2 separate regions of the Homo sapiens genome follow, and region 1 is linked to region 2. Evidence: fine-mapped expression QTL. Tissue or cell type: whole blood. Region 2 holds a variant in brackets; the other region holds the start of a gene. All regions are shown on one strand. Distances are from middle to middle. Region 1 holds the start of LINC01151 (long intergenic non-protein coding RNA 1151). Region 2 holds the start of LOC124902081 (small nucleolar RNA U13).

Evidence for each region.
Region 1: LINC01151 starts here. The variant in region 2 is fine-mapped to the expression of LINC01151 in whole blood (TOPMed, PIP 0.99).

Annotation. Positions count from the first base shown.
Region 1 is chr8:122,685,822-122,702,383 of GRCh38, forward strand. It overlaps LINC01151 (long intergenic non-protein coding RNA 1151), which reads right to left and starts at 8,285. Exons shown (of 4, transcript NR_126348.1): 1 at 8,060-8,285; 2 at 7,552-7,660. It overlaps LOC107986904 (a long non-coding RNA gene), which reads right to left. Exons shown (of 3, transcript XR_001745738.3): 3 at 14,012-14,591. RefSeq lists enhancers at 3,752-4,951, 7,581-8,780, 8,601-9,101.
Region 2 is chr8:122,662,919-122,679,480 of GRCh38, forward strand. It overlaps LINC01151 (long intergenic non-protein coding RNA 1151), which reads right to left. Exons shown (of 4, transcript NR_126348.1): 3 at 8,351-8,470; 4 at 7,467-7,582. It overlaps LOC124902081 (small nucleolar RNA U13), which reads left to right and starts at 8,373; the gene lies at 8,373-8,476. RefSeq lists a silencer at 14,572-14,866. The variant G/A (reference allele first, on the strand shown) is at 9,138.

The sequences.
Region 1 (16,562 bases), 23 kb after region 2:
CTGGCCAGTGATCAATAAGCAGAGATATTGTATGGAACATGCTGAATGGCATTGTCTCAGGGACAGGACAGGTCTTCTTCCATTTCTCCTTCCTGCTGCCTGGGATCCAGATGTAGTGGCAGGAATTTTAGCAGCCATTTTGGACCTTGAGGATGGAAAGTACACATGGTGGAGCAGAAAGCGTAAGGTTCTTGGATCTCTGATAATGCATGGAGCTGCCTTAGCAGCCCTGTACTTACTACCCATCTCCAAAATATTTTATATGAGACAACAGACTCTTGTATGTTTAAGGCTTTGGAGTCGAACCTCTCATTTATAAACAAACTTGATTTTAAAACATACCTCAAGGATTCCCTGAGTTCACTGGCTGAACACACCTTCATTTCAGTGTGTTATACATTCACTTCCCTATCAGCAATGCTGATGTTCCCTACCCAGCCTAAAAGGACAGAATAAAAAGCCTCTCACATCCAGGTCAGTCTTTGCATTATGGCTGCCAGTCTCTTTCTTCCGAAAACTTGGGGGGTGGGGGAGGGAGAGATAAAGTTTTACCACCAAAGAAGTCACTAACGAAGTGCCAGGAAATTTTTATACATTCGATTACCAATCACCAGTAACAGGTGAATTCTATCATTTTTCTTCTGGGCAATATTAATGTTTTGCACTTTGAAACCAAAGTCCTTGAGCACAGCTGTTATCCTCCACTGCCTCTGGAAACTCCTCTCCGGTTCACACGGAAGGCTACCCTTTACCTCCCACTCCCTCCCAAACCTTAGTGCTCACAGCCATCCTTTGTCCATTTCTGTCTATTTGATATATGCCAGTTCCTCTGGCTGCTGTCCAACTGCAGGGCTTCTGAGCTTAGCGTGAAAGCCCCCAAATGATCCTGCCCCACCCTCTCTACCAGAGTCCATGCATCAAGTCCTTTAATCAGTTACTGTAATTCCCCTTATCTACACCTGCCTCACACTAATCCAGTATCTCGGTGGAACAATGAGGCTTCCAAATAGAGGTAATTTCTTCCACTGCCCATTCTCTGCATGGCCAGTGAACTGACAGAGTCATAAAACAGGGCAGAGGTCGCAGAGTGCCTCCAGGGCAGTGATTTCCAGAGTGTTTTTATTTTAAACCTGGAACTCTTTGTTCACATGAAATCTTAGGTAAAGCCAAATATGCAAAGCGGTTAAAGACAGAGCCCTCCAAATGGAAGGGAGATGGTGGGAGCAAGTTTGGAGGGGACCCAGCCCCACTGCCGCCCCTCAGCAGTTTTGAAGGGAACCCACAGAAACCCAAGTCTCTGAGTGGATGAATGCTCTTCCTTCTTCCCTCTACTTAAACGCTCCTCCCCCAGGGGTTTGCTCTGATCATTTCCTCATTCCAATCAAGTCTCTAGACAATGTCACCTTCCCTGGCCACTTATCTAAAGTAGCCCCCACTCCACATCACTCTCTATTCTTGCAGGCTGCATTAGTCTTGTGTCAGCTTGAGAATGGAATAAGAAATGTAAACCTTGCTGGGTGCAGTGGCTCACACCTGTAATCTCAGCACTTTGGGAGGCCAAGGCGGGCAGATCACCTGACATCAGGAGTTCGAGACCAGCCTGGTCAACATGGTGAAACCCTGTCTCTATTAAAAACACAAAAAATTAGCCAGGCATGGTGGCAGGTGCCTGTAGTCCCAGCTACTTGGGAGGCTGAGGCAGGAGAATCTCTTGAACCCAGGAGGCAGAGGCTTCAGTGAACCGAGATCATGACACTGCACTCCAGCCTGGGTGGCAGAGTGAAACTCCATCTCAAAAAAAAAAAAAGAAAAATGTAAACTTTTATTAGAGGAAACACATATGAGAAAATGAAGGGAGTGAACTGGGACTGGTTGGGAGAGCTGTCAAACTGCAGTGAAGATCTGCCTGTAAGTGAAGGAGAGAGGGAAGGAAAGGAGGGTGGGAGAGAGGAAGGATTTCAGACTAGAATACACTTCTACAAAAATTCCAGCAAGCCCTTCAGAGAGTACTCAAGCCAAAGTTTCCCATCAAGAAATCCCAAGTCTGCCTCAGTGTCCCTGCCACACTGGGACATTGAGGGGAAGCAGTCCCAGTGCAAACACAGTGGTGCATTCCCAAATGCAGCTGCCGAGGTTCTCAGTCACTTTCACACTCTGCACCATGAGATCCCAGAGGCTCATTCTCATGGCCACCAAAATTTTCCTTTATAGTGCTTTCACTATCTGACATTATATTTAGTATTTATTTGTTTGTTATTGTCCCCAAGCTAAAATGTAAACTCCATGCTGACAGGGGTGTGCCTGGCTTGTTCCCTACAGTATCCTCAGCTCCTAGAACAATATCTGGCAAATAAAAAGCAAATATCTGTTGGATGAATGGGCAGGTAGAGGGATGTTTTATGGGCTGCAAAGGAGTTATAACATGAAGAAAATAGTGTAAAGATCTCAGAGTTGTATTGTTAATCAAAAAGAAAAACGACAGCATCTTTTCATCTTGGGAAACATCTTGGAGAAAGAACAGACTGCGGTTGAGACAGCTTCAGGAACGCCGCTGCCTCGGGGAAGAGACAGGATTCACAAAAGTGAGGGCAATTCAGCCAAGAGCTTGAGTATATCAGGTTGTTGGTTGGTCAGGGTTGCAATTCATCCAGGCTGAGAGACTAAAATTTACTTTCCTGAAGCTAAAGGGAAGCCAGTGGCCATGAAAAACTGAAAATACAATATAATCTCCTCCTCTTTAGAAAACAGAGACAGAGACAGAGAGAGACTGGCCTTCTCTTGCATGTGATCATTAGTGATCTAGGTGTGATGCTATCCCCATAACATCCTTCACCCCGCCCCGCACAAACCCTCCACCCTGAGAGCACTGTTCTTTCAAACTCTGAGATCTAGATCATGTGAAGATCTGATTCCACTACCTAAATTTCAGAGTCAGAAGATCTGAGAAGACTCAGACTTATGTTAACAAGTGTGTAGAAACGTGAAAGAGGAATGTCTTCTCTGTGAGTCAATATTGGAAACTCAAGTGATTTTTTTCCCCTTTATTAAGAACAAAAGAGGTCAGGCGCAGTGACTCATGCCTGTAATCCCAGCATTTGGGGAGGCCAAGGTGGGAGAAGCTAAGAATTTGAGACCAGCCTGAGCAACAGAGTGAGACCCACCCCCCATCTCCAAAAAAAATTTTTTTTTAATTAGCTGGGTGTGGTGGTGCACACCTGTAGTCCCAGCTACTCTGGAGGCTGAGGTGGGAGGACCGCTTGAGCCAGGAGGTGAAGGCTGCAGTGAGCCATGTTAGCACCACTGCACTCTACCCTGGATGACAGAGCAAGACCCTGTCTCAAAAAAAAAAAAGAACAAAAGAGCCCAAATGCCATATAAGAATGTCTGCTCTTAGTTTACAGAGCTTTCCAAAATACAAAGGCTTCCTTTGGTATGAAAAATTCAACAAATTTGTGTAACAAACCATAAAATTAAATGTATATACTTGAAGGACTGGGACTGCCAAATAGATTCTTCAAAATGGCTTTGCCTTTTTGATTTGCTGCACCATTTTTAGCCAAAACTGGTGCAGTGCTCTAAATATCCCAACAAAATTGGAATCTCAAGACCTCCAAAAGGCTAATGGTGACCTCCAACTTTTAATAAAAGAGCTGAGGACCAAGGGAAGACCAAGGGGTTTGATGGATTCAAGATCATAAAAGCAGCATTAATTGTCTGACCCAGGGGAGGAGGTCAGAAAAGGGGCTGCAAGGATCACACCAAGAAAGGAGACAGGCCCAGCATGGATGAGGGGGACTGTAAGCACCTCATCATCCCTTGCGTTCTCTAACCAATGCACCACACTTTTATCTGACATACACGCTGGGCTTGGTAGTAAGCTTTCACATAAAGAAAAGTCTGAGTAAACAATTTGAGTAGCACTAGTCGATTCCACTGAGATGATGTAATACTTGTATCAGATTCTTCATTCCCATAAATCCTGGGGTGTTAGTCATATAACATTGCCTGACATATTTTCCACTCCCCAACACTCAGGGGCTATCTCCAAAATGGGACAGATGTTATCTGGCACTCACCCTTTACTGGAGCTCTCAGTGGAAAAATTATGCAAAAAAAAAGTATTTCCGTGAACATTTACTGACTTCTGACTCTATGCTAGACCAGAGATTATAAGATCATCTATCCCCACAAATAACTTACAGAATAATAGAAGAGAAAGTGCACAGGCAATGTGAACATTGCTGAATGCTGAATCATTTAGAATGTGTTTGCCTGCAAGTAAGAGAATACCGCCCCCTCTCCCCGCCCACACACACACACAAAATGTGACTTAGGCATCAGGGGTTATTACTATATCTCACATATCCAAAAATCTGGGGGAGAATGTTCCCAGGTTGGTTCGGCAGTTCAGGAATGGCAGGGATCCAGTTCACCACCTCTATGATTCTCTTGGCTTTCCCCTCATAGCTTCAAGGTGGCTGCTGTAGCTCCAACCATCACATCCTCACAAAACTACGTCTAATGGCAGACATGAAAAAGATCACTCCTTTGTAGTCATGGAGGAAACTTCCCCAAGAATTCCTTGGCAGATTTCCCATCTTATCTCTTTGAGAAGAATTAAATTACATCCCCAGACTTTAGCTATAAGGCAGGTTGGGAAAGAGAATATCAGGTGTTTTCAGCTTCGGTTGAGAGAGGCAAATTCTGCCAGCAAGTAAGCAGGAGGAGGAATGGTTGTAGGTGAGTAATCAACATGGTCTGCCGTATATGTCAGGGGCAATGACAGAGAGGCATAAAGCAGGCCATGAGAGCATGGAGGAGGGGCACCTGTCTCATCAAGAGGACACTTCCTGGAGCTGGTGACACCTGAGATGAATATTAAAGAACAAATAGGATTTAGTGAGATGAAGATCATGATAGAAAGGATGGAGTGGGCCAAGGTCCCAGGTAAAGGGCCAACATGAGCAAAAGCATAGGACTGTAACAGAACACGATGTGGGCACCAACTTAGTGTCACTACAGCATCTAATGACAGGAAACGAATATTGTGAAGTGTCAGAGGCCTGGTCACAAAGGCCTCCAGGGCTGTCTACCGGAGCTTAAACTTGCAACATAAGCCAAAGCTTGCAAACTTGGAGGCTGGAGGCCAAATCCAACCTCCAGACATGTTCTGATTGGCAGGCACTTGGGGTTTGCATTCTGAGTATGAATGACTGGAGGCAGGGCATACTCCAGGGCTGAACACTTGGTCTCCCCCTTTCTATTATCTTACACCTGGACTGTTTCCCTCAGTTATGCCATCAGCCTGCTCCCTTAAGGCTTTTGAGTTCACGCTCCTGAATAGGCTCCGGAGAGCCATTGAAAGATCTTACACAGAGCAATGGCACTACCTGTTCTGTATCTCATATCATTCCTTCTGGCAGCATCGGGTTGGAGTTATGAGATTGGAAATAGGAAGACTGAGTAGAGGTATCTTTTTCAGGACTGTTGGTTGCAAGTGTCAGAAATCTTACTCAAACCTGCTTAAATTATTTAAAAAGATATGTTAGTTCCATAACTTTAGAGTCCAGGATAAGTTTAAGCCTCAAATATGGCTAGATCCAGGGGTAACATGATGACAATATGTCTCTCCATCCTGCTTTCCCATGTTTTGACTTTGTTCTCAGCCAGGCTCTCTGCTAATGGAGAACATGGTCCCTGGCAGCCCCAGACTACTGTGATCCTAAAAGTCAACTGTTGCCAAGAAAGAAGAATGTCTTTCCTGATAATTCTGACAAAAGTCCCAGGTTAAATGAGATGGCATGTGGAAGAATAAATAAATTAATAAATAAATAAATAAACAAAAGTCTCATGGAAGACTCTGATTGGCCTGGCTAGGTCATGTGACCATTCATAAGCTAAAACACAATGCTCATATAAGGAGAATGTATGGAACAGGACAAACAATCACCAGAGGATGGAACTCCAAGGATGTGAAAGGCTGAACAAAGGAAGAGAAATCTACGAAGAAAGGGTGGTCAGAGAATTAGGAATAGAATCAGAATCAAATGATATCCCAGACACAAGGAAAGAAATATTTAACACAAGTGGGCAACTCTTTCAAATTCAACTAAAGTATATTTCTTAAGTTTTTTATAAAAAACTGTGATGTATTGGATTGGTAAAATGTTAGAATTACTTTTGGTGGAGTTGTGGGCACTTGGGGCAGGTTGAGGAGTTGGCAATGGATTGAGGCATGCATAGAAAAAGTAGAAACAAAATTATAGATGACCTAAGAAATTTGGTTGAAAGAAACAGAAATAGAGAGGTTATAGAGAAAGAAACAGGATCAAGGTAAGATATTTTTGGTTGTAAAGTGTTTGAATTAGCAGGTGGGAAGGAAGCCTGAAAATAAAGAAAAGGGAGTTACTTTTTAATTTTTTTATTATTTATTTAATTTTTTAGAGACAGGGTCTTGCTCTGTCACCCAGGCTGGAGTGCAGTGATGCAATCAAAGCTCACTACAGCCCCAACTTCCCAGGCTCAAGCAATCCTCTACCTCAGCCTCTAAAGTAGCTGGGACCACAGGTGTGCACTACCACACCCAGCTAATTTTTTTTTTTAAGAGATGAGGTCTCACTATGTTGCCCAAGCTGGTCTCAAATTCCTGGGCTCAAGTGATCCTCCTGCCTCAGCCTCCCAAAGTGCTGGGACTACGTGAGCCACCACACTTGGTCAACTATTTAAAAAGAAAGATTGAATTACAAATAAATATAACTACTAGAAGCATCAAGTCAAGATACATGGCAGTTGAAAATTTCTGAGGATTGTCTAAATTCCCGTTTATGATGTCTTTCACCTTTATGGTGATGGAAGAAATAGGAAGCCCTGCTAGCATCTGCTACAGCTGTTCATTCATTCATTCATTGATTCACTCAACAAATGATTATGAAGCCACCACCTGGCCAGGCACCAGTCCAGGTGTTAGTGATCCAGCAGTGAACAAAATTGACAAAAACCTGCTTCCATGGGTAATAAATGCCCCCTGACACTCGATTCCTGGCTCTCCCACCTTCCTACAGACCTGATCCATGCACTTGGCTTCCAGCTCTTTCTGGGCCCTACAGGCAGATGTACCCAGGATACCAGGTGCCATCTCTGGCAGCTGAAAGTTTGGTTCTCTGGATTGTTCCAAACTTCATTGCTTTTGCAAGCTGCTTACTCACCACCCGACAAAGGGTGAATAGTGAATACAGTCACATCTTTCTACGCTCACCATCTTTCTTCCCTTTTAGAACCTAGAGGAGGATAGAAAATAACAAAATTTTCCCCACCTGAAGCTGCCAGTAGAATTCCCAAAATAAGATTAACTTCTCTAGATGACTCACCTAAAAATCTCGCCACACTTCTCTTGTGCTGCTGAGAAAACAACCAAAAGTAGCTATTATGCTGGAATGTAGGTGAAGATCAAAAGTGGACATCAAACTTGCCAGAAGCAGAGAGCAGGAAGACTTGAAAATAGAGATTCTGGACTCAGACTACCCAGGTTCCAATCCTGGTGTCCTCACTTACCAGCTTTCAACACCGAAAAGGAGACGCAGATGGAAATCCACCCTGCCCAAGAAGCAGCTTCCCACTGGAAAATGGTAATAAGAGTAATAATAGCAGGTGCATCAAATAGCTGTGAAAATGAGATGCAGTCATTCATTAAAGTGCTCAGCAAGGGGACCACGTGGGCGGAGGGCTGAGGTGAGGGTGCATTGCCATGTGGAAGTTGGGTACTACAGCCAGAATGCAAAAGGATAAATCCAGTGTTCACTAAATAATACTGATAAATTTTCTTACCTAATACACTCTCCTTCTGACCCACTCAGCCTGAACATAGAGAGGCAGGAAGGTAAGATTTCCCTGTCCACTTCAGAAACTGAGGTTAGTACAATTAGTTCTTCATTCTTCATGTCTGAGGCCCATTGGCTTCAAGAAAATCTATCTTTCTCTTAAAAACAACTCACTGTAACCATTAGGTCAAAATTACAGCTAAAGATCGAGTTTCTGCAAAATGTCAAATAAAATGTCTTACCATTTGTGACAAACAGCTGTTGCCTTCTTCTCCACGATGGAATCAAAGGATCTTATCACCTTAAAGGAAAACGACTAAAGCAGAATTATTTTCCTTTTAATCTTTTTTCCCCTCCATGGAAATTTACATAAGAAGGAGCTGTAATCCATTCCTTTCTGTGTGTCAGAAAATCTCCACTCTTGTGGTCTCCATGGCAGCAACTCCCAACCTGAGACAGAGGCTGTTTCACCCCACAGAGTGCATTGGACTTTTATCTGGTGAGTGCAATCAATGTAGACAAGCACATTGGATGACTCAAACTTGGGATTATTTCTGATTTTGAATTCCGTGTGTGTTTTGGCTCTCTGTGTTGGTCAACAGTGCCAGATGAATTCAAGTCTGCCTGTTACTTTATGTTGTGGTGAAATGGCCTGATAAGCCCCCTGGCGTTTTGAATGCTGGCTCTCGCTCTACACCGATGATGAAGCATTTTCCAGGTTTCTAAGGGGGTGATGCAACTGACTCACTTTCCGGGTCAGTGGGGACTTGCCCTCAAGCTGTTCTGGCAGCGGTGGGCCACTCTTTCTCAGCTTATCTTTTTGTGATGTCCTGAAACACACTCACCTGTGGCCACTGAATAGCGTTAAGCCCATGGTGGGTGAGCTATTGTGAAGCTGAATTAGCACACCCAAATGGGATTTAAACCCATGATCTGCCCTCGTGAGTGGGAACCGGTGGAGTGACCGTGTCCGACGCTCTCAAGGCTAGGTCAGGCTTTTCTGAAATGGCCATTTAAAGCCTCCATTTGTTTCATGCTGTGAAAGACTCTGTTTAGAGGGTGAAAAGACAACCTGCAGACTGGGAGAAAATATTTGCAAGCCAATATCTGACAAACATTTTGCATCTTCTAGAATATATAAAGAACTTTCAAAACTCAACAGTAAAAAAAAATTAAACATGGCTGAAAGACATGAACTGATATTTCACCAAAAAGGATAGGCAGATGGCAAATAAGCAAGAAAAGTTGTTCAATATCATTAGTCATTAGGAAACTGCAAATTAAAACCACAAAAATATATGCCTACACACCACTTAGAATAGCTAAAATTTTAAATAGTGATAATATCAAATGCTGGTAAGGATGCAGAGAAACTAGATCTCTTATACATTGCCTGTGGACATGTAAAATGGTACAGCCACCATGGAAAACAGTTTGGCAGTTTCTTACAAAATTAAACACTTACCATATGACCCAACGGTCATACTCCTGGCATTTATCCCAGAGAAATCAAAACTTATATTTACACAAAAACCTGCATATAAATATTCGTAGTGGCTGTATTCATAATGGCAAAATACTCGAGGGAAAAAAAAGCAAATGTCCAATAGGCAAAGGATGGAACAAACTGTGGTACCTCCATACAATGGAATACTACTTAGCAACAAAAGCAAATGAACTCTTGGTACATGCAACAACCTGGATGGACCTCAGGCATTATGCTTAGTGAAAAAAGCCAGTCTCAGAAGGTTACATACCTTTCGGATCTGTTTCCACTTATCCAACATTCTCGAAACGATGACAGAAAGAGCACAGATTAGTGGTTGCCAGGGAGCAGGAGGATGAGGGGGGAGGAATACAAACAGATAGAATGGAATTCTTTTTTTTTTTTTTTTTAAGACACAGTCTCACTCTGTCACCCATGCTGGAGTGTGGTGGCATAGTCTAGGCTCACTGCAACTTCTGCCTCCCCAGTTCAGGCAATTCTCCTACCTCAGTCTCTGGAGTAGCTGGGATTTACAGGTGTGTGCCACCACACCTGGCTAATTTTTGTATTTTTAGTAGAGACGGGGTCTCACCATGTTAGCCAAGCTGGTCTCAAACTCCTGACCTCAAATGGTCCACCCACCTCGGCCTCCCAAAGTGCTGGGATTTTAGGCATGAGCCACCGCGCCCGGCCTGAATGGAATTCTTTTACTGTGATGGAACAGTTCTGTATCTTGATTGGGATGGTGGTTACATGAATCTATACATGGGATAACATTACATACACACAAATGCAAGCTTAAAAAATGCTGAGAACAGAATAAAATCTGCAGTATAGTTCAACACTACCAGTGCCAACTCCCTGGTTTTGCTATTTTACCACAGCTTTATAAGATGTCACTGCTCGGGGAGGCTGAGGGGAGGGTATATGTGACCCTGTACTTATGGCCTCTTTCTGTGAGTCTATAACTATTTAAAAATAAAAAGTTACAGCCGGACGCAGTGGCTCACGCCTGTAATCCCAGCACTTTGGGAGGCCAAGATGGGCAGATCACAAGGTCAAGAGATAGAGACCATCCGGGCCAACATGGTGAAACCCCGTTTCTACCAAAAATACAAAAATTAGCTGGGTGTGGTGGCACGTGCCTGTAGTCCCAGCTACTCAGGAGGCTGAGGCAGGAGAATCGCTTGAACCCGGGAGGTGGAGGTTGCAGTGAGCCGAGATCACGCCACTGCACTCCAGCCTGGCGACAGAGCGAGACTCCGTCTCAAAAAAAAAAAAAAAAAAAGTTACCAAAAGCCTCCTACTCATTATCATCTACTCATTCCTTCATTTATTCCCTTAATTATCCATTTATGATATTAAAGGCTATCCCTCTCAAAAAAAAAAAACTTAAACATTCAGCAGATCTTCCTTGTTTTATTCTCAAAACATTGCTGAGACCTGTCCTAGACCTGCCTGTGAGCCATCTGGACTCTTGTCTAACACTCGGTCTCCAATAGATGCGTCAAGGGTGGGTGTGATTGTTCTCTGTGGGTAGGGCAGTATCAAAAGCATCTTCAAGTCTCTGACCCATCACTCACGAACATATCTGACCCATCACTCTTGACCCATCACTCATGAACATATCCAAATTCTTAAAGGACTTTATATTTTCAAACAGTGCTACTTCTAAAGGTAATAAATTCCATGCTAGGTACTCAGAGTGCTAATTCTAGGACTCTGAGAAGCTGAGGTGGGAGGATTATTTGAGGCCTGGAGTTCAAGATGAGCCTAGCAACATAGTAAGACCCCTGTCTGTACAAAAAAAAAATCATTTTAATTAGCCAAGTGTGATGGTACACACCTGAAGTCCCAGCTACTTGGGAGGCTGAGACGGGAGGATTCCTTGAGCCCAGGAGTTTGAGGTTACAGTGAGTCACGATCATGCCACTGCACTCCAGACTGGGCAACAGAGAAAGACCCTGTCTCAAAAATAAATAGATAAACGAGACAAGCCTGGCCAACATGGTGAAACCCCGTCTCTACTAAAAACACAAAAATTAGCTGGGTGTGGTGGTGCACGCCTATAATCTCAGCTACTCTGGAAGCTGAGGCAGAAGAATCGCTTGAACCGGGGAGTTGAAGGTTGCAGTGAGCCAGAATCGTGCCTGGGCAACAAGAGCGAAATTTTGTCTCCAAAAAATAAATAAATAAATAAAGTATAGTATAGTATAGTATGGTATGGTATAGCATAGCATAGCATAGCATAGCATAGCATAGCATAGCATAGCATAGCATAATACTGGACAATAGAAACTTTTCTGCTCCATTATAATCTTATGAGACCACCGTCGAGATAGGCAATCCATTGTTAACTGAAATGTCATTATGCAGCACATGACTGTATTGTGCTACAATTGCTCTGTCATTCTCTCATATATTTATAGATGTTTTTTCTAATTCATTTGAAAGTCAGCTGCAAAATCCAGCCATGTTTCCCCCAACATTTCACCGTGCATCTTGAATGAATATGGACATTCTCCTAAATAAGCACACCACCATCATACCTAAGAAAGCTAACATTTATTCGGTTAAATGGTGCCATTTAATATGTGACTTACCTGTAAATTTTACCAATTGTCCCCAATATACCTTTTAAAGCTCTTTTTATTAAGTCCAAGACTGTGTCTCTAAAACATAAAAATTAGTTTAAATTTCATGTTTGCCACCATCGTTTAAAGCCACTTACACTTAATATTTGTACAATTTTGACCCTTTTGAAACCCCATGGTTGCCCCTCTTATTTGATTCTATTGAAATTTGGTGAATAAGTTTGTTTACAGGCATCTTTTCTATGCCCTTCATGAATTCATAGCATGTACTTATTTCTTCTTAGAGCTTTGGTCTCTCCATGCTGGAGTCCACCTCCTTTGAGCTCATGCTCAAATGTAGGTTCCTCTTAATAATTTAGTTTGCCTCTTTCTACGTGTCCTTTATAGGTCCTTCCTTAAGCAGTGTAATGACTAAAATTGCATACATCCCTCCAAGTGCCAACCCACATAGGTTTTATACAAGATATACAGAGCCACGCTTTTAGGATTTAGGACCAACGAATGGCTCTTTTACATGTTAACAATTTAGGAGCTATAAATTTTCTTCCAGACTTTTTCCTTGCCTTAAACTTTTTTACCAGTTGAAAGCTGCATAAAATGAACATCAAGGGCAGAACATCAAAGGAACTAAGAGGCTATGTCCAAGAACACCAGACAACAGGGAGAAGTGTTTCCCAGGTGCCCACAGCAGGCTGCAAGAGAGACCATGGAGGGCTGTGGGTGGCAGATATTTACATAATGACATCGACATATTTTAGCTGCCAGCTGTGAGCTGTCTTCATTTCTTCTTTCACTTGCTCCTCAAAGTGTGAGGTCCAGAGTGACCCCGGTTTGTTGACACCCCCCAGGGACAACTCTGAAATGAACTGCAACTTCAGATTTTGTGTCTAATGTTTCTCTGAATAATGAGCAGGATTTTCTTGGCCTGATATGAAACACACTGGGCAAATATTTTTAGCAAGACATCTATAGTGAATATTATGTCTCTTTTTGGATTGGCAACTGAGAGCTAGCATTTCGTTGTTCGATTTACTTGGATTTGTCCCCTTTTCGTGTGTTTTTACACATTTGCCTTTCATGAACTTTCTCTCTCTGTGGTTTATTTACTCAGTTGTTCACTCGTTTGATGTCACTTCTCATGTGCTTATTATGGACAGCCCTTGGGTTATGCTTTGTGGACACATCACAAACATAACTATGACATAGTCCTGGCACTCAAAAAGAGACCTGCATTCTGTTTTTGAAAGAATGCCCAGGCTGAAGCGCAGTGGCATCGTCTTGGTTCACTGCAACATCCGCCTCCTGGATTCAAGCGATTCTTCTGCCTCAGCCTCCTGAGTAGCTGGGATCACAGGCACCCAGCACCATGCCTGGCTAATGTTTGTATTTTTAGTAGAGACAGGGTTTCACCATGTTGGCCAGTCTGGTCTCAAACTCCTGACCTCAGGCAATCCGCCTACCTCGGCTTCCCAAAATGCTGGGATTACAGGCGTGAGCCACCACGCCTGGCCTGAGGCTTGCATTCTTTAAGTGGGGCACATGACCCAGCACATCGCGTACTCGTGGCTACAGTGATTGGCTCACAGATTACACATGGCCAAAAACAGTCATGTCAGAGCCCAAGAAGACTCAAGTAAGCTCCATGATGACAGGAACCTCTTCTCTCTGTCCACTTCAGTATCCCGAGCATGTAGAAGAATGTCTGGTGCATACTAGGACCTCAATAAATATTTTTGCATTAATTAATTCCATGACTTTCGTTTATGTTATTGAGAAACAGGCTACCTCTTTCCTGCTGCACCAGAGAATTCACAAACTGAAGCTGCCATCTCGCTACCAAATGGAGTCTGAGACTGGAGTCAACAGATTGCAAAGCAAGCAGAAAGGAGAGACACGTGATTGCATCATGTGAGCCCTGAATCTTGCTATGCCTGCAGCCAGGGCTGCCTTGGTCTTGTTACATGAGCCGAGTTTGCAGTTTGCTTATGCCACATTTGATCAGGTTTGTTCCTGTTTGCTGACCAAGTCCTAACTAAAAACATTAAAAGAAGTATCCTGCCTACCCTTAAATCAAAGCATTTCAACCCCTTGACAAGGGAAACACATGGCCCAGACACAGACAATCAGAGTTTAATGGGGCTGATTTTCATGATGGTTTGCTCCTGATAGGAAGGAAGAGCAGGCTCAAATAGTGGGGCTGTCCTTAGCCCAGCCTCCAGGGCTGATGGGCTGGGATGAAGTCATGTGGACCAGTAGAAAGAAAGAAAATGTGAGGCCAAAAAATAGGATCTTTGGACTTAGTTTTCTATTTAAGAGCTCCATAGGCTTGAATAAGTCAGTTGACCTCTCTGGACTTCAGTTTCCTCCAGTACAAAATTAATAACTTGGCCTAAGTGATCAGTTCTACAATGGGTGTGACTGCCTATGTCTCTCTATTGGCATGGGGCTCACTGCTGCTGCAGCTGCTGCCATTATAGCTGCCCCTGTGATAACTGTGGTGGGTGCGGTCACAATCCTGGAGGCCAGAGATCCGAGTGTTGGCAGTGTTGGTTTCTCTGAGGCTTCCTTCCTCGGCTGGTAAGATGGCTGTCCTCTCCCTGTGTCTATCCCCGGACTGCTGCAGGGATAGAGAAGGCAGGGGTGATGATAAGGCTTGTGATGGTGGTGGTGGGTCCTGTGGTGCTGGTGAGGTTCCTAATGGGAAGAATTGGGGCAATAGGGGAAGGCTTATAAGAAAAGAATATTCAGACATGGACAGTAACAAAGGAAAGACCATCTGAAGACACAGGGAGAGGATGGCCATCTACAAATCAAGGAAAGAGGCCTCAGGAGAAACCAACACTGCCAACACTTTGATCTCTAGCCTCCAGCATTGTTAGAAAATTAATTTCTGTTGCTTAAGTCACCGATTCTGTGGTATTTTGTTATGGCAGCCTCAGTAGATGAATACAGGGTTGCATTCATATTTCTTAACTCTTGCCAGTTTATTCTAATGTTCGGCTTCAAGAATGATTGCCCTATAAGGTAAACCTACACTGCCCAGCCCCCATTCAAGACTCTGGCCACATTCCACCTGTCTAATCAGAGACCCCACTTTCCCATAAAGGTTCCCAACTGCAGTGGGACGCTTCAACCCATGACTCTTTTTTTTTTTTTGAGACAGAATCTCACTCTGTCGCCCAGACTGTAGTGCAATGGCACAATCTCGGCTCACTGCAAGCTCCGCTTCCTGGGTTCAAGCGATTCTCCTGCCTCAGCCTCCTGAGTAGCTGGGATTACAGGCATGTGCCACCACACCTGGCTAATTTTTGTATTTTTAGTAGAGACGGGGTTTCACCATGTTGGCCAGGATGGTCTCTATCTCTTGACCTCGTGATCTGCCCACCTCGGCTTCCCAAAATGCTGGGATTACAGGCGTGAGCCACTGCACCCAGCCCGCATGACTCTTAAGAATGCCATGCTAGTTCCTGATACAACTCACTCATTTGTCCCTCCTGACTTTTCTCACTCCCAAAGTCTACTTTGCCCTTCCACCAAACCAAATGCAATGCAAACCTTTTTCAAGCATTTACTAGGCAAAGTGTTTTGATGTCTAACCAAGTAACACAGTTTTAAAGAAGGGCTTGTCAAGACCATTTACTCTTGAGCAGGGAAGGGAACAGTTGTGGGGAGGTGTATTTTAGTTTCCCACCCCAGCCTTCAAGTTACTCCAACCAGGAACCACCTACTGAAAGCTTGGCTCTAAGTTTTCAGAGAGCTAGTGTAGGAATTTCCATGTTATGGAGGGAGAAGGTTCTTTCTGTGGTCCTCTGTTTGGGGGAAGCACCATGAAGGAGTTGGTGAATCAAACTGGCACTCTTTTTTTTTTTATTTTTCTTTAGAGACAGGGTCTTTCTCTGTCACCCAGGCTAGAGTGCAACCATAGCTCACTATAACCTTGAACACTTGGGCTCACAAAATCCTCCCACCTCCACCTCCTGAGTAGCTAGGACCACAGGTCCACACCATCACACTTGGCTATTTTTTTTTTGTTGTAAAGATGGAGGTCTCACCCTGTTGCCCAGGCTGCTCTTGAACTCCTAGCCTCAAGCAATCCTCCCGCCTCAGCCTCCCAAAACACTGGAATTAAAGGTGTGAGCCACCACGCCCAAACCTGGCAATCTTTAAGCTGTGTTCTCAGTTTCCATGGACAATTTTTTTTGCCACTGATTGTCCTGCTAGTCTATGAAATAATGCTAATAAAAAAATATGTTCCTTAGTGATTAAGAGCACAGATTCTGGACTTAGAAGAGCCTGGTTCAAATCTCAGTGCTTCGACTTCCTAACTGTCCAAAAGAGTATTCTAAACTTGGAAACGTGCAGAAGAGATTATTGAGTGATCTGCCAGTGCAGAACTGGGATTTCTACTGACTAGTCAATTTTCATCTCCATAACGGCAGAGGTTTACTTGTAAATTTTGGTCCCGCAGAGAAGCAAATAATTTAACTCTGGTAGAAGAATTAGCTCCAAGGGTTATAGTTGATAGCCCTGTTGGACATTAACTAGCTTTCTATCTCACCCAGTAATCTTTTGGTATTAAATTTCTACTGCTGATATAACAATGTAACACATTTTAGGGTGTAAAAATCATGCAAATGTATTATCTTACAGTACTAGATGTCAGAA
Region 2 (16,562 bases):
AAAATTAGAATGATGATTTCCAATTTCATCCATGTCCCTACAAAGGACATGAACTCATCATTTTTTATGGCTACATAGTATTCCATGGTGTATATGTGCCACATTTTCTTAATCCAGTCTATCATTGTTGGACATTTGGGTTGGTTCCAAGTCTTTGCTATTGTGAATAATGCCGCAAGATCAAAAAACCAAACACTGCATATTCTCACTCATAGGTGGGAACTGAACAATGAGATCACATGGACACAGGAAGGGGAATATCACACTCTGGGGACTGTGGTGGGGTGGGGGGAGCGGGGAGGGATAGCATTGGGAGATATACCTAATGCTAGATGACGAGTTAGTGGGTGCAGCGCAGCAGCATGGCACATGTATACATATGTAACTAACCTGCACAATGTGCACATGTACCCTAAAACTTAAAGTATAATAAAAAAAAAATACAAAAATTAGCTAGGTGTGGTGGCACATGCCTCTAATCCCAGCTACTTAGGAGGCTGAGGCACAAGAATGGCTTGAACCCAGGAGGCAGAGGTTGCAGTGAGCCAAGATCATGCCACTGCACTCCAGCCTGGGCAATAGAAAGAGACTCTGTCTCAAAAAAAAAAAAAGAAAAGAAAAGGAAGAAAGAAAAGTAAAAGAAAGAAAGAAAGAAAGAAAGAAAGAAAGAAAGAAAGAAAGAAAGAAAGAAAGAAAGAATCAATATGAAGAGATGAAGCCTTTGCTTAAGTGAAGTTAGTGCACAGAAGTGAGGCAGAAGCAGAGTCAGGAAGACCTCTCAGAGGAGGCACCACTGAGGAGAATTTTTACATATAAGCCGGAGTTAGAGAGAGGTGTATGAAGGAAGGGGATTTTATTTGGAGATAGTAGATATGTAAAGACACAAAGCTGGAATGAATTATGGCAAGAGGTTTATTTGATTACAGTGGAAACTTCAAGGAAGGGAGCACTGAGAAAAGAGGCTTGGAGAAGCTGGCAGGGACTAGATAATCATAGGCCTTGAATGCCAAGCCAAAGAATTTGGATGCTAGTCTGAAAATATTTGGAGCCACAAAGGTTTATTTTGGGTAGATAGTTTCCAACAATGGTCACCAGTGATTCCTTCCCTCCCTGTACACATATGATGCTCTACCTATCAAGACGTAGGATCCCTTTCCATTCCCCTTGGACCTTGCCTAGCCTTGTGACTTGCCTTGTCCTGTACAGTATGACAGAAATGACACAGTGCCATTTCTGGAGTGAAACTTGAAGATATCAGGCAGCTTGCTATAAAGCAGCTCAGATTCCTGAATGATGTGATACCATGTTGGGAGAAATGCCATGTAAAGGAGAAGTGAGGTGTGAGACATGTGTGTGAGGTCTTCCTGAACCTTTCAGCCCAGCCAAGCTGCCAGATGGATACAGCTGGATGAGTGACTCCTAGCGTATACCAAGCAGAACAGAAGAACTGCCCAGCTGAGACCTGCCTGCATTCTTGACCCACTGAATCATAAGCAATGGTGAATCATTGTTGCTTTCTGGATGATTTGTTATATAGTAGCAATAGACAACTGAAACACATTTCATTTTATCTTCAAAATAGTACAAGGATATAGTATTCCCTCCATTTAGATATGATGAAAATGAGGCTCAGCAAATCACAGAGCAATAAAGGATTCTAAGAGGCATTCAAGATTGAACTCAACCTTTACCAACTGTAGAACCCATGCTCTTTTCACTAGACATAGGGAATAAGCCTAGTATTTAGCTAAAATTTTGGATACAGTCAGCCTCTATTCTGATTGATCTGGAGTTCCTTCCAATTACTCAAGCCCTTTTCTTTACTTGTTATTAAATATTTGGAATACTGCGATTGCCTGGGAGCACAGGATTATGAGACAAGAACCATAACCATCTTTGAAAGATGTTGGAAGTCTTTCCAGTTTATAGAAAATATCCCCCAAGTCTTGTTTTCCTGGCCTTACCAACCTGGCTTATTTTGGATACAATCAGTACCTGAGGGTGAGGCTCAGAAGTGCCATCTGGTCCTCCCATGTCTCCATGGCATATCTCATACACAGCCAGAAATGGCTGTCAGCAGGAATGCCCTACAGGCCAAACAAAAATGCACCCAGTAATAGATGCATGTTTATTTTCTTTTCCATTTCCCACCTTTCTCTCACTTTATTTCAGAGCTTTTGCTGTCTGTTTTACTACTTGGGAAAGCCCCTTGGAGTATCATTCTGAAGTAAAATTACTTCATTTAATCCAATGTATTGCTCTTGGAAAAAGGTTTTATTTCCCGTACTTGAAGCTGGGCAGTAAACAATAAGCTTCTATTTTTCCTAATCCTAATTTCCAACCTTTTCTTGTGTCTTCATAGTTAAGGGAGCTAACAAATTTGTACCATGCCCCATCATTGAAGGAGACTTTGCCTAGAGCCTGGATGGAAAAACAGATATTTCTGTTCAAATTTTACTCAACACACTCCCAGAAGAAAAGGCAGTGAACCAGTTATGCTCAGGTAGTTGCCTTCACGTTTGTAGGGAGTTGTTCTTCCAGGTTGAGTGGTTCCAAGAATGAGGTACAAATTCTTCAGTTCTACAACATTTTCAGTGACTGCATCCTGCACACGAGAACTTTCTATGCAGCTTAGCAAAACAAGGTAGGCATTGACTTTGGAATCAGAAGAACATTCGGGCTCTTCTCAACCCATTTCAATCAGACTTTTACCCCCACCATGTAACAAAGTCACCAATGGCCTGTCAAGGTCACTAGTGCCTGCATCTGACCAAGTCCAACAATGGATTTTAATCCTCATCTTACTTAATAGCAGCAACTGACACTGTTGATCCTTCTTTTCATGAAACACTTTTTTTTTACTGGGTTTCTAGGCAGTCCCACATTCTTTTTTCCCCTCTTCCCAATCTGTCTCTTCCATCTCTCCCTCTCTGGATTCCCCTCTTCCTCCTGACCTATATAGACTGACAGACCCCAGGCTCACTTTCAGCCTTCTTGTTTCCTCTCTCTGCTCTCATTCTCCATGTGATCTCATCCAGTCCATGGCTTCAAAGTCAGTCTACATGCTGAGGACTCCCACATTTTATCTTTAAATCCATTGTTTCCCTTATTAGAAATGTCCAAAATGGAATTCCTAATTTTTCCCCTTAACCCTGCACCTCCCTCAGACTTCTACAACTCAGCAAGTGGTACAAATCCTTCACCAAGGTGTTCAGACCAAAACCCTGGAGTCCGTCTTAACTCTTCCGTTTCTCATACCCCACATTTATTCAAGCAGCAAGTCCTTTTACCACCTCAACTGTTTCCACTCTAGACCAAGCCAGCTTCATTATTTTTTATTGAGACAAGGTCTTACTCTGTCACCCAGGCTAGAGTGCAGTGGTAAGATCACAGCTCACTGCAGCCTTGAGCTCCTGGGTTCAAGTGATGCTCCTGCCTCAGCCCCGCAAGTAGCTGGGACTACAGGTGTATGCCACCATGCCTGGCTAATTTTTTTTTTATTTTTTGTAGAGACAGGGTTTCACCATGTTGCCCAGGCTGGTCTTGAACTCCTAAGCTCAAGTGATCCACCTGCCTTGGCCTCCCAAAGTGCTAAGATTACAGGCATGAGCCACTGCACCCAGCCACTGGCTTCATTTTTGCCTTATTATTGCAATAACCTCCTGTGGTTTCCAATAATTTGCTTCTCCTTCCCCACCCCACTGATACTAGGCTTACACTCATGACTTGCTTTGGTCAGTGAAATGTGATGGAAATGATGTTTGTCACTTCCAGGCAGAAGAGTTCAGAAGCAGAATGTGATTCACTGTGATCTTTTTTTGTCTCTTCCATGAGACCATCAATAGCTCCAGAGGGAGCTGCTTTATCAGCTTGGGTCCTAGAGTGAAGATAATGTGGAACAGACCTGCAAAACATGGAACATTGTTCCTTTGGAATTACTCAGCCCATCCCAATGAATACACCTACCCACTTGGCTTTTTACTTCCATGTCACCGCCCTCCCTAACATCCACCCAGTAAATTCTCGACATAGTATTCAGAGGGATATTTTGCAAGGGTAAATTAGATCATGTCATTTCCCCACTCCAAGTCCTCCAAAGACTTCCACTTAACTTAGAATAAGATCCAGTTTTCTCATCTTGTCTATAAACCCCTTTATGGCTCAGTTCTAGCTCACCACTCTGACCACATCTCTTATTTCCTTCCTCTCTCTCTTTTCTGACATGGAGAAGTCCACACTGGCTTTCTCTCTGTTTCTTGAATATACCAACCTCATTCCAACATCAGGGATCTTGCATTTGCTGAACCCTCTGACTGGGATGTTTGTCCTCCAGATACTTGCATGGCTGACTCCCTCGCTTCCAGCAGACACCTGCTCAAATGTTGCCCATCTGAGAAGATTTCCTGCATATCTGGTTTAAAATAGTCCATTCCCTCTTCCCACCTGGCCACCTGCTACCTCCTTCCTCAGCTTTATTTTACTTAATAGCACCTATCACTACCAATTAATATATTTTACAATTTTTTTTTATTTGTTGTTCGTCTCTCCTTCTAGAACATAAATTTCACAAGGACAGGAACTTTTTCTTACTTACTATTAAAATTCACAGAACTCTTAACACTGCCAGGTACATGGTAGACTTCAAAAAATTATATTTGTTTTGAATGAATGAATGAAGAAATGATGCCTGAGATTTTCACACTTACTGTCTGTGCGAATATGGGCAAATTATTTTAATTTTTGAGTTCAGTTTCCTTGTCTGTGAAATGGAGACAGCAGTCCCTGAATTTTCTACTTTCCTGGGTTATCGTGAGGACCAAAGCAGATTGCGACTGCAAGTATGCCTTCCAAACAACAAAGAACTATGGAAATATTACATAGGATTATTGATACATTAGCCTATTTCAGACACCAGGCAAATTTTTGGCCAAACTCTGAGAGAGAAAACTGTGTCTCCGATGGACTTTACCTCATTTTTCTATTACCATTTCCCCAAAATGTGGTATATGCTTTTCTCCTCTTGAATCCAGGCACTTCCTCTTATTTGTAGAATAGGAAGAGTAATACAAACCTGGGTTATCTCCAAATCTGCCACAGCTGACCTTGGAGAAGTTCCTTAACCTTCTGAGGCTCAGATTCTTTATCCATTAAATAGTGAGTATGAAGAACTGATTTCGTAAAGCTATTATGAGGCTGTAATGAGTCATGCATATGAAGAACTTTGAAGATTGAGTGGGATATAGTAATCTTGTAATAAGTGTTAGTTATTGTTATTCACTTAACTATTGACTGCCTGTGCAAATGATACTTCATACATTTTTGTATGTGAATCAGATGAGGGAAGGTATGCCCATTACTTAGAATGGTGCTGGAAGCCTCACAGGTGCTTAATAAATAATTGCCATTATAAGTAGTAGCGGTGGTGGTGGTCGTGGTAGCAGTAGTTCAGAGCAGTTGTGAATTTCAACAAAATTGTTTTAATGGTCCATGGTCTCTTGATATAATTTTGTTCTTCTCCTTTTCCAGCATTGTGGTGCTAATTAGGAGACTTTTATATAAACCTTTTCCCTAACCATTTCAGCAAGTCACAATTCATTACACCCAAAAGCATCAGTCCAAATTCTAACATAATAAACCCCATGGCTACAGGCCCTACCCCACCCCACCCCCTGAAAAAGAGATCAATGATCTGTGGGTGTTGGTTGCAATGTAAAAGTCAAAACCTGACTACAGTTAAGTTTGTAGGGGCCCTGGCACTGCTACCTGCCTAGGAATTGATGACCTACGGTTTTCAACCTCTCCTAGAAATATGAACTGGGTTCTTGGCATAGAGTCTCCACAAAATCACCAGTGCAGTACTTCCTAAATACAGATATCCCTCATTCTCTTTCTCTAAGTATGAAATGGAATCCAAACTTTGGTCAAGCTTTCAAAAGACATCCTTCTCACTAATTCTTCCCTAGGATCTCTGCTTTAATCTAAGAGAATGATAGGCAGCCATGCCAACTTCCTACATCTATTATCAATTCCGAAAAAGCTGTTCCCATTTCCTTTGAGCCACATGCTAAAACATCTTCTCACCCTCACCATAAAATCGTTCAATGCTGTAAGAGGATATTATAGACTTCCACTTAAAAGTGGTGGATGGAACATAAACATTATTTCTGCTCCCTCCCAGAAATTCCAATAAATATTACAGCAAAGGAATTTTTTTTTTTTTTGAGATGGAGTCTCACTCTGTCACCCAGGCTGGAGGGCACTGGCCTGATCTCAGCTCACTGCAACCTCCACCTCCTGGGTTCAAGCGATTCTCCCGCCTCAGCTTCTCAAGTAGCGGAGATTACAGGCACCCGCCATCATGCCTAGCTAATTTTTGTATTTTTAGAAGAGATGGGGTTTCCCTATGTTGACCAGGCTGTTCTCGAACTCCTGACTTCAGGTGATGCACCCTCCTTGGCCTCCCAAAGTGCTGGGATTACAGGTGTGAGCCACTGTGCCCGGCTGGAAAATTTTTTTTAAGCATTAAACCTCAATGAAAAAGATAACCAGAAAGAACATAAACAAATAAAATCTGGGGCTCTAGGAAGCAGATGAACCAGTGATAACTCACTTAACAGACCTAAGGAAGTTGAACCCCAAGCTAACAATAAGAACAAGCCCGATTTTCACTGCAGAATCCCAGGGTACCACTGGACATAGGTGGGAAGTTGAGTCTGTTGACACAATGACTGGCTGGAAGTATGTTTAAGAAGTAGATAGACCCTCCCCAGGCCCCTCATCCTGCCCCTTCCCCAACCCAGACAACTGAAGGCTTAATTCCTGGAAAGAATAAAGCATAGTGGGGCATATACAGCATTGTTGAGGGCAGGGACAGTGTACTGAACACAGGAAGATTGAGTGAGAGGTTACACACTGAGTATGAGGACCTTAGCTCTCAGAGCATAAGAAGCCAGACTTAACACTCTGCTTGCCAGAGACTGAAGCACACCTCTCTAGGAAGTCTATCTACTCCAAGAAAAGATATAGCAGCACTAACAACAGAATACCCCTGGAGAAGCAGATTGGCCAAATCACCTTACAAGTAGTGAGTTCAGAGTTAACAAGTTCCACCCCCACACACTGAGTTTCTAATTTGCTTTTAAGCGTCTCATTTCAAAATGTGAGCCTTAGTCAATGACCACCAAAACTCTGAGGAAATTCCCTAACTTGAAAAATACAATTGACTCTCCAAAAACTTAACTACTAATAGCCTACTCTTGACTGGAAGACTTACCAATAACATAAACAATCACTAAACACTTTTTTATCATATATGTATTATATATTGTATTCTTACAATAAAGTAAGCTAGAGAAAAGAAAATCTTATGAAGAAAATCATAAGGAGGAAAAAAATATGTATTTTTTATTGAGTGGAAGTGGATCGTCACAAAGGTCCTTACCTTAGTCATCTTCACGTTGAATAGGCTAAGGAAAAGAAGCAAGAGGAAGGGTTGGTCTTGCTGTCTCAGGGTGCAGAAGCAGAAGATAATCCACATATTAGCAGACTCAGGCAGTTCAAATTCATGTTATTCAAGGGCCAACTGTAAAGGCCAAAATATTATGGGGGAAAAAAAAGCAACTTATAGAAAACTCTGCAGGAAAATAAAAACTTCAAAAGGAAACTATCATCAACATCCTCAGACAAATAGGAGAAGTTATTGTAATTTATTAAATAAAAACAATATTCTGGCAAAAGGAAAACAATTGTAAAACAAGATAGTAATTATAAATTCAAATTTGACAGCCAGAATGAAAATTTCAGTCAAATAGTTAGAAGATAAATTTAGGGAAATCTCTTAGAAAGTAGAATGAAAAATCAAAAAGATGGAAGATATGATATAAAAGATAAGAAATATAGAAAATCATTCTAGGAGTTCATCAACTGAGTAACTAAAATTTCAGAAAAAGAACTTGAAAAATAGAAGAAAAAAGACACAAGAAATAATCCAAGAAATTTATCAGTACTGAAGGGCATGAGTTTCTAGACTTAAAAGGTACAGTAAATATTCAGTACAATAGATAAAAATAAACTCACACTAAGTTCCATCATCTTAAACTTTCAGAACAATAGACATAAAAGAGGGAATTTTAAAACTTTTCAGAAAAAGGTAAAAATCATTGCTCAAAATACCAAAATGACTGTGAATTTCTCAACAGCCCCAGTAGAAGCAAAAAGATAATGTAACAATGACTTTAGAATTCTGTAGAAAAAAATTATTTCTAGCCTAGAATTCTACACCTATCAAAGTTAACAATTAAATATTTGGGTGGGATACAAACATTTCAGACATAAGTCTCAAAACAATTACCTGCCGTGAGCCCATACTGGAGATCCTTTTGTAGTTCATAAGCATGATGATCGGGTGTTCATGTCCGAGCATGAGATGTGCCTCCCTCAAACCTTGTTGTGACGTTGGCACATTTCCCATCTGATGTGAAAAAGGAAAAAAAAAAAAAAGAAGAAGAAGCTACTAGGTAAGTCCAAAATTATGAGGCAAAGCAAGAAAGAGGAAGACATGGAGTCTGGGAAATGAGAACGTCAATCCAAGAAAGAGCAAAGGAAATCCCAGAGATAAAGGCAAAGGGAGATCCAAGTATAGCCATGTACTCAGCCTAGAAATAAACTAGTCCAGGCTGGAGCAGCTCTGTAGGGTACAGGAAAGATGATCGAAAGATGGCTTTGTTAGAATACCGGATGTGAGTGAGTGTATTGAGAGGAAATTTAAACAACCGAGGAGAAAGTTTGGAGTGAATTAGTGATAGAAAACAAAACAAAGGAAGAAAAAACAATATAACTATTAACTCCAGGAAAACCTAAAGATTGTGCAAGAAAATAAAAGTAAGCACATTTCAGCTGTGAAGAGTATTTATAGGGACAGGAAAATATACACACTGAATATTAACCTAAGCAAAATTATGAAATAACAGTAGTGGGATAATGAGAGCATGGGGGTCCGGGGGTTCAGGAACCGTGCATGATGGGGCATGGTAGAAATGGTAAAAGAGGGCTAAAATAGTGAGAGGCTAACAGTTAATGCTTAAAGCATTAGGCAAAAAAGAAGGAGCACTATAAGCATATACCAGTGACATGGAGGC[G/A]ATACCAAAATAACCAGCTGCAAGAGCTGAATGTGTTGATTCTAGGAAGCAGGAAATGCTGGGTCAAGAGAAGAGTCTATTATTTTTCACTATGCCTTCTAAAATTATTTAACCCTGAAAATCATGTGTGTGTATAAAGTTAATCAAAATTAAAACTAAATTTTAAAATAATCATGCATCAATGATAAATTAAAAGGATGATTTTAATTTGGCTTCTCTTTGTCATGTGCACACATAGACACACGGAGCCATTTGGGCAATACATTTTGCAAAGCATCTAAATGCATGAAAATATTCCAGGAAAGTGTTAATGATGGCCTAGGCCAATCTGTCTTTTGTAAATAATTTCTCAGGCAAGTATACTAATTAGAGCTAAGATAGGCAAATGATACAACAACCCACCAATCAAGAGCATTTGCTGCTCGTCTATTGAACACATAGCAATAAATATTCAACATTCTGTGGGGTAAACAACCAAGTGTAAGATATGGTTTCTGGCATTATGGATTTTATGATCCAATTAAAGACATGAAACATAAACTTTTGTAAAGTTAAATGACAGTACAAAATGTATAAATAAGGTTTTATTTAAAAAGTAAAAGATGTTGCAAGATAATACATGACTTTTGCTAAGTCGATGCCGCAGACTACAGAAGTGTTATTGTTTAGAACAAAGAAAAGTCAGGATGCAGGGAAGGGATCTCAGAGAAAAGAGATTAGAAATAGGTCTTGAAAAAATGGGCTGGATTTGAATGAATGGAGGAATAGGGGAATTCCAAAGGCGGATCCAGGAAAGGAAGATGTCGTCTTGGCACCGTGAAGAGATTACAGGTTTCAGAGCCTAGGCGTTTGAGTGACAGCCTGCTCACCAGAACGGGACAGCAATTAGCCTTTGGCCTGAGGAAAGCAACTTGTTCAGAATAAAGTATTTTTATCACCCACAGTGAGGCCAAGAATCCAGTCAGATGTCCTGTTGGGATGTGAATCTGTCATTTTATGAGCTCAAAAAACCCCAGGAATGGCTTCGAATCCATGTTACAGGTCCGAGTTCCCTGGAAACAGCAATTGCCTCTTAGCAAAATCATTAATTAGGGCATTGCCTTAATTCCATTGTGAATAATAAAAATATGTGCACAGACTTCTGTACTTTGATGAAAGCATCAGGGTGTGATTTATGGGGGAAGATGCTCTCCGGGGAATATAAATATGTAAGCCTTACATACTTATAAAGTTCAAGCACATTACCTCTTCAACGGCTTTCAAAACTAAAGTGACCTCAGTTCAGTCAAATAAATAGGACAGACATGTAAATTAGCAAAAGAAGTGCTCTGACATTTATGCAAGGCTTATATCCCACGATGAACAATATCTAGATCAGTGGGAAGTCGGAAGCATTCTATATGTAGCTATCGCCAGACAAATCTAAACACTTGGTAGGCACTCAAAAAAAACTTACTGATTTTAAGTAATTAAAGGGGATCTGGTGGGCAGATACAAAAAGACAGAAGTCGCATCATGAGGCAAGGTTGCGACCGGAGTCTTTCTAGCCAGTTCCAGAAGAGCAGGTGGTTATATCCACCAGTGCCCAGAAGAGGGCAGCCAAGAGCTGCTCAACTGGAACCTTCCTGGGAAGGACACCCACTTGGCACCAGCCAGGGTAAACTGTCCTCTCCCCGGCACACAGAACAGAATCAGCCCAGAACTGATTGGTGAAGAAGTTTGGGGAGAAAAAAAGCAGGGGTGGGAAACATGGACTAAAGGTGTTCAAGACAGATGAAGAACCAGACCAAGAAGAATCATGGAGAAGCCAGAGAATGGAAAAGAAAGACAGCAGCCAGAGGTCAAAGGAACAAGGCACAGGAGTGCAGCAGCCCTGACCTTGCCACTCCCCTGCTCAAAAGAGTTCAATGGCTCCCTACTGTCCATCACACAAACTTCGTAGCCTGACATTCAGGGTCCCACTCTAATCTAACCCTAACCCACCTTAAGAATCTTGGGATTTGCTAGGTTTTTAATCATACACTCAAGATTCCAAGCAAACCAAAGTCTTTCTTGTGACTTTCTTCCTCAGTGTCTTTGTTCCTCCTGTCCCTTCACTCACTGCTCTAAACAATGAGTGGCTGCCACATACTAGTAATGAGAGGAAGGGATACAGGATCAACCAGAAGAAGTGCCCACCTTCAAAGCTGCCAGGAAGAGACAGTGCCATGTACTACCATGAGGGAAGCAAGAGTGGATGGGGTGGAGAGATAAGTGGCTAAGTCAGGCTGTCCGAAAAGGCTTCTTGGAGGAGGTGACCATCCCCCTGAAATCACCTTGCCTTTCCTCTCCACTCATCTAAACCTTCAGCGCCTGCTGAAGGACCATCTGTTGTTTTCATCTGCCTGCCTGCCTATTCCCACTCCTGGTAAAATATTCCATCTCCTCCTTTAGGAAACTGCTCCCTACCCCATCTGCCAGGTAGGCTGATCTGGTAATGTGGTTGATCATATTACCCCATCCTCTGATCCACAGAGGTTGGTTCAAGGAAGATCCTTCAAGACAGACTAATCAGATGTCTTCCCTGGAGTTTTCCCCTCCATTTTGGAATTGAAGGAATAGCTAGCTTTCTCTTTCCCCTGGATTGGAAGCTGACAAGATAGATACCAGAGCTGCTGATGCCATGTCCCTTGCCTCATGGAGGATTCTGAGAGAATAAACTGGAAAGAGATGGAGAAAATTGACACTATACAAATGCCAGAATTCAGTTGCCCTGAATTAGGGCAAGGCCTCTGCTCCACTGTGAGCAGCAAAAGCCCAATTCCAGAGCTCAGCCAAAGGAGTTTGTTTTTCTTGGGTAGCAGATGTTTAAAAGGCCAGTGGACAAGCTCTGCTGCTCTGGCTTCATGATGACATCAAAGACCGTTTTCCTCCGCCATCCCCATCACATGAATCTCCTCATGCTCCAAAATGATTGCTACATCTCTGGGGTTATATCCACATTCCACACTGGAAGGGCAGAAAGCATGTGCCCATTGAGGGTATCCCTTTTCATCAGAAAAATAATATATTCCCAGAAAACCCAACCTGTATCCTTCTGCTTACATCTCAGTGTTCAGAAGTGTCACATGGCCACCCCTCACTGCAAGGAAGTCCAAACAGCTGAGTATTTTTAACTGGCATACTGAGACAACAGAGGAAATACACATTGTGTAAGTAACTGGTGGTATCTGCTCAAGTCCTAAATGTCTTTGTTTGCCTGCATAAACCCATAAATTCTCCTTTTTTGCTTAAGCTAGCTGGAGATGGGTGTTTGTAACTTTCAATCAAAAAGCCATGGCTAAGACACCTGCCAAATGCCACCACCACCATAGAGCCTCCCTGATCTCACTACATCAGAATAATCTTGATGTCTTCAACTTCCAACAGGTCCTTTTCCCACCAGCAACCTGAGGAAGGGAAATCACAGGGACAGGGCGATCGCACCTAGGCAGCCAAACCCCACCCCAGCAGCCAAAGCAGGCAGAAGAACCCTGCCAGCAGGATTGCTGGAATCTAGCTCTCTTCTCTCTCTCGCTTCACCTGCGAAGGGCCACAAAAGAGCTGTTTCAAAGCCATCAGCATCATGAACCCAGCCACTGCTATTGACCCCATATGCTGAACCCAGCAATAAATACTATCCAGGGCTTGTTGCTGGCAAGAAAGGGGGAGAGAGCAACAGCCCTGATTTGCCACTAAAACACTTAAACATAATAGGATACATCTACAGGATGAAGCACTAGAAAGGAATAAAAAGAGAATGAGGAAGCTCTGGATGCATTAATGTGAAACACTTCTAAAACCGTTACTAAGAGGAAAAAAGCTAATTGCAAAATGGTGCCCGTATATATATGAGATATATAGATAGGATATATATATACACATATAAAATAATCATTTGTGATAAAAGAAAGAAAAATAGTATCTGCACCAATATTTGTACCTGCAGAAAATATCTCTAGAAGGATATACAATGCAAGAGACTGGTACTTTTGGCTGCCTATAGGGTGAAGAACAGGAAGGCTACAAAATAGGAGGGCAATGTTTCTCCGTACGCTCTTTAAACCTTTTGAATTTTGGACCTAGGAGTGAACCACCTATTTGAAAAAGAATGAAAATATGTTTCTGTAAGTAAACACATTACAGTTTGTGCTGGTATGTCTGGTATGTTTTGTTTAGTTAAGGCAAAACAATAGGAAGGATGAAATTGGCAAACTGGGCTGGGAAGAGAAAAGGAAGACAGAAAAATTAGCATCCATTTAACAATAAAATAGAAATAGCATTTTGGGTGAAGGGATGCTTTTCTCATATCTTGCTTCAAGCATTTACAGACATCATTCATCCTGTCTTTTCTACAAGCTGTGGAAAAATTGATTCAATTCCTTCCAGCTTAGAGCAGAGGAAAGGCCTAAAGAGCTGAGTCTCTGACACCGCCGCATTTCCCCAACCTGGCCAGGCCACCCCATCCTTGCTCAGTCTGTTTCCTGTGTCTGGAATCGCTCCCCTTTCTACTCTCTCCATTCCAAGGAGCCGCTCCAACACCTACACGGCTTCTCCATTGAAAATAGCTGTTCCAATAGACCAGGCATTGGCCTTTTCTGAAAAGAGTCAGGTGGTAAATAGTTTAGGCTTTTTTTTCATGGCTGTTCTGTCTCTGTCATAACCAGCCAACTCTGCTGTTGTAGCATGAAAGCAGTGATAGATAATACATAAACAAATGGGCATGGCTGTATTCCAATAAAACTTTATTTACAAAAACAAACAGGCTGTAATCCAGGCCACTGACAACACCAAATGCTGGCAGGGATGTGGAGCAACAGGAACTCTCATTCATGGCTGGTTGAAATGCAACATGGTACAGCCACTTTGGAAGACAGCTTGGCCGTTTCTTACAACACTAAACATACTCTTGCCATATGATCCAGCAATTGCTCTCTTTGGTATTTACCCAAAACCGTTGAAAAATTATGTCCACACAAAAACCTGCACATGGATGTTTAGAGCAGCTTTATTCATAATTGCCAACACTTGGAAGCAACCAAGATGCCCTTCAGTAGGTGAATGAATAAATAAACTGGTCTATCCAGACAATGGAATAGTATTTAGCACTAAAAAGAAATGAGCTATCAAACCATGAAAAGACGCGGAGGAAACATAAATGCATATTACAAAATAAAGAAGCCAGTGTGAAAAGACTACATACTGTATGATTCCAGCTACATGACCCTCAAGAAAAGGCAAAACTATGGAGACAGTAAAAAGATCAGTGGTTGCCAGGGGTTGGTGGGGGAGAAAGGGGTGAAGAGGCAGAGTACACAGGATTTTTAGGGCAGTGAAACCACTCTGATGAAACCACAATGGTGGATACGCATCAGTATACATTTGTCCAAACCCATAGAATGTACACCATGAATGATCCAGAATGTAAACTATAGACTCCATGAGTGATAATGATGTGCCAATCATCAGCTGTAACAAATGTGGCTATTGGTGGGTGAAGTTGATAATGGGGGAGGCTGTGCATGTGTCAGGGCAAGGAATAAATGGGAAATCTCCCATTTATTTATGTTCCTCTGGCTCCCAGGAGGGGGAGCAGCTGTTCCCTCCGTCCGCTCAAGGGGCCTCCGCACGCTGCAGGCATTCTCTGGGGTCCCTGGACCTAGGAGACTCTCCCCAGAGTACCAGTCCTCCCAGTCTCCCCGGCAAAATCAGTGCTGCCCAAACCTCCCACTCAGTGTTGCTGTGAACCTAAAACTCCTCTAAAAATAAAGTCTATTAAACAAACAAACAAACAAACAAATAGGTGGTGGCCATATTTGGCCTGTGGGCCATTGTTTGCTGACCCTTCCTTTGGACTCCAGGGAAATTTGCCATCAGTGACCATCATTCTCTGCATTACTTTATAGTAGGTGGATTTGTTGCCATTTCTTGCCCTCAGATGCAAACACTTTGAAGATAAAAACTGTCTCTTCTTATCCCATCCACTAGCCTGAATGTTGGTTGGATTAAATTGGCCTAAAGTGATGTAACCCAGCTGCCAAAGACAGAACACAGCTCATAGCTTTCTCTTTCCTGGGGCATGTCTGTTGCATCAAACACCAGCCCTTTCACCACTTGCCCGCCATAGGCCCTGAAAAACAATGTCCCTGCCTGCCCTACTACCCTGGGCACCCTGTTTCCAGAAGCTTCCAGATGAGCACAGTCGGAGAGCCTTCTCTAAGTGTTTGGTAGAGGGTGTAGATTAAATAACTTTTAAAGCAAAATTCAAAAACAACAGCATTCAAAAGCACCAAATTCCAAAGCAGCATCGCTCCACCAGGCTGCCACATCTCCTTTTCTCACACATGGCCCTACTGGTTTGCAGTTTAATCGAATATTTATGTTGCTGTTAGCTTTTTGGTCCACCTACAACATTCTAATGTAGCAAACTAGCATTTATTGAACAGCTACTACCTGCCAGTTGCTCTGAACATTTTAAAGAGATGTCCAAGGAAGGAAGAGGGGATGTTTACTTTCCATTGTATAACTTACGGTGTGCTTTGAATTTTTTACTATGTACATTGTTGTACTATGTACTATATACATAATTTCAGCTTATAGAGTAAGTGACTGGAGGATTTGATGTGTCATTTCTGAAAATGTATATTTTCACATGTGAGGTCTTTCTGAAGGTGATTGCAGATTCCTAACAAAATCTAGAGAAAAATAAATAATTTTTGTTTTGTACTTGAAAATTGCCAAACTGCATTAAATAATCTTGCGCTCTAAGATTCTTTTCTGTACTCATGTCATTGTACTTCCAAAGTCAAGGGCCTCTGTGTTCTGAGACTTGGAAATTCAAAAAAGATGCAGCTTCTCCTCGGCCCTTTGTCCACCCGCCTCCACCCTGGAACAGGCTGCCTTCAGCCCTGCCATGATCACCGCAGCCCGGCAGGACTGTTGTTCCTCTGGCTCCCAGGAGGGGGAGCAGCTGTTCCCCTTGTCCGCTCAAGGGGCCTCCGCACCCTGCAGGCATTCTCTGGGGTCCCTGGACCTAGGAGACTCTCCCCAAAGTACCAGTCCTCCCAGTCTCCCTGACAAAATCAATGCTGCCCAAACTTCCCCGTGCTGCTGAAAATGCAGAGACGTGAAATCCCACTGAAGACCGTGCTGGAAGCTAGCCCAGCCTCCACCATGACTGCGACCCGCCTTCAATCCCTGAAACTTTGAGGAAAATAAGTGAGACGTGTATTTTGACACACCAAAACAATGAGCGAAGCTGCCCCCACCCCTGAGGGCCATTGGGCTTTCTCCCCTGATGATATGTGTCCCGTCTAAATCTCATGTTGAAATGCAATCCCCAGTGTTGGAGGTGGGAGCTGGTGGAAGGTGAATGGATCACGGCGGGTGGATCCCTCAAGGCTTGGT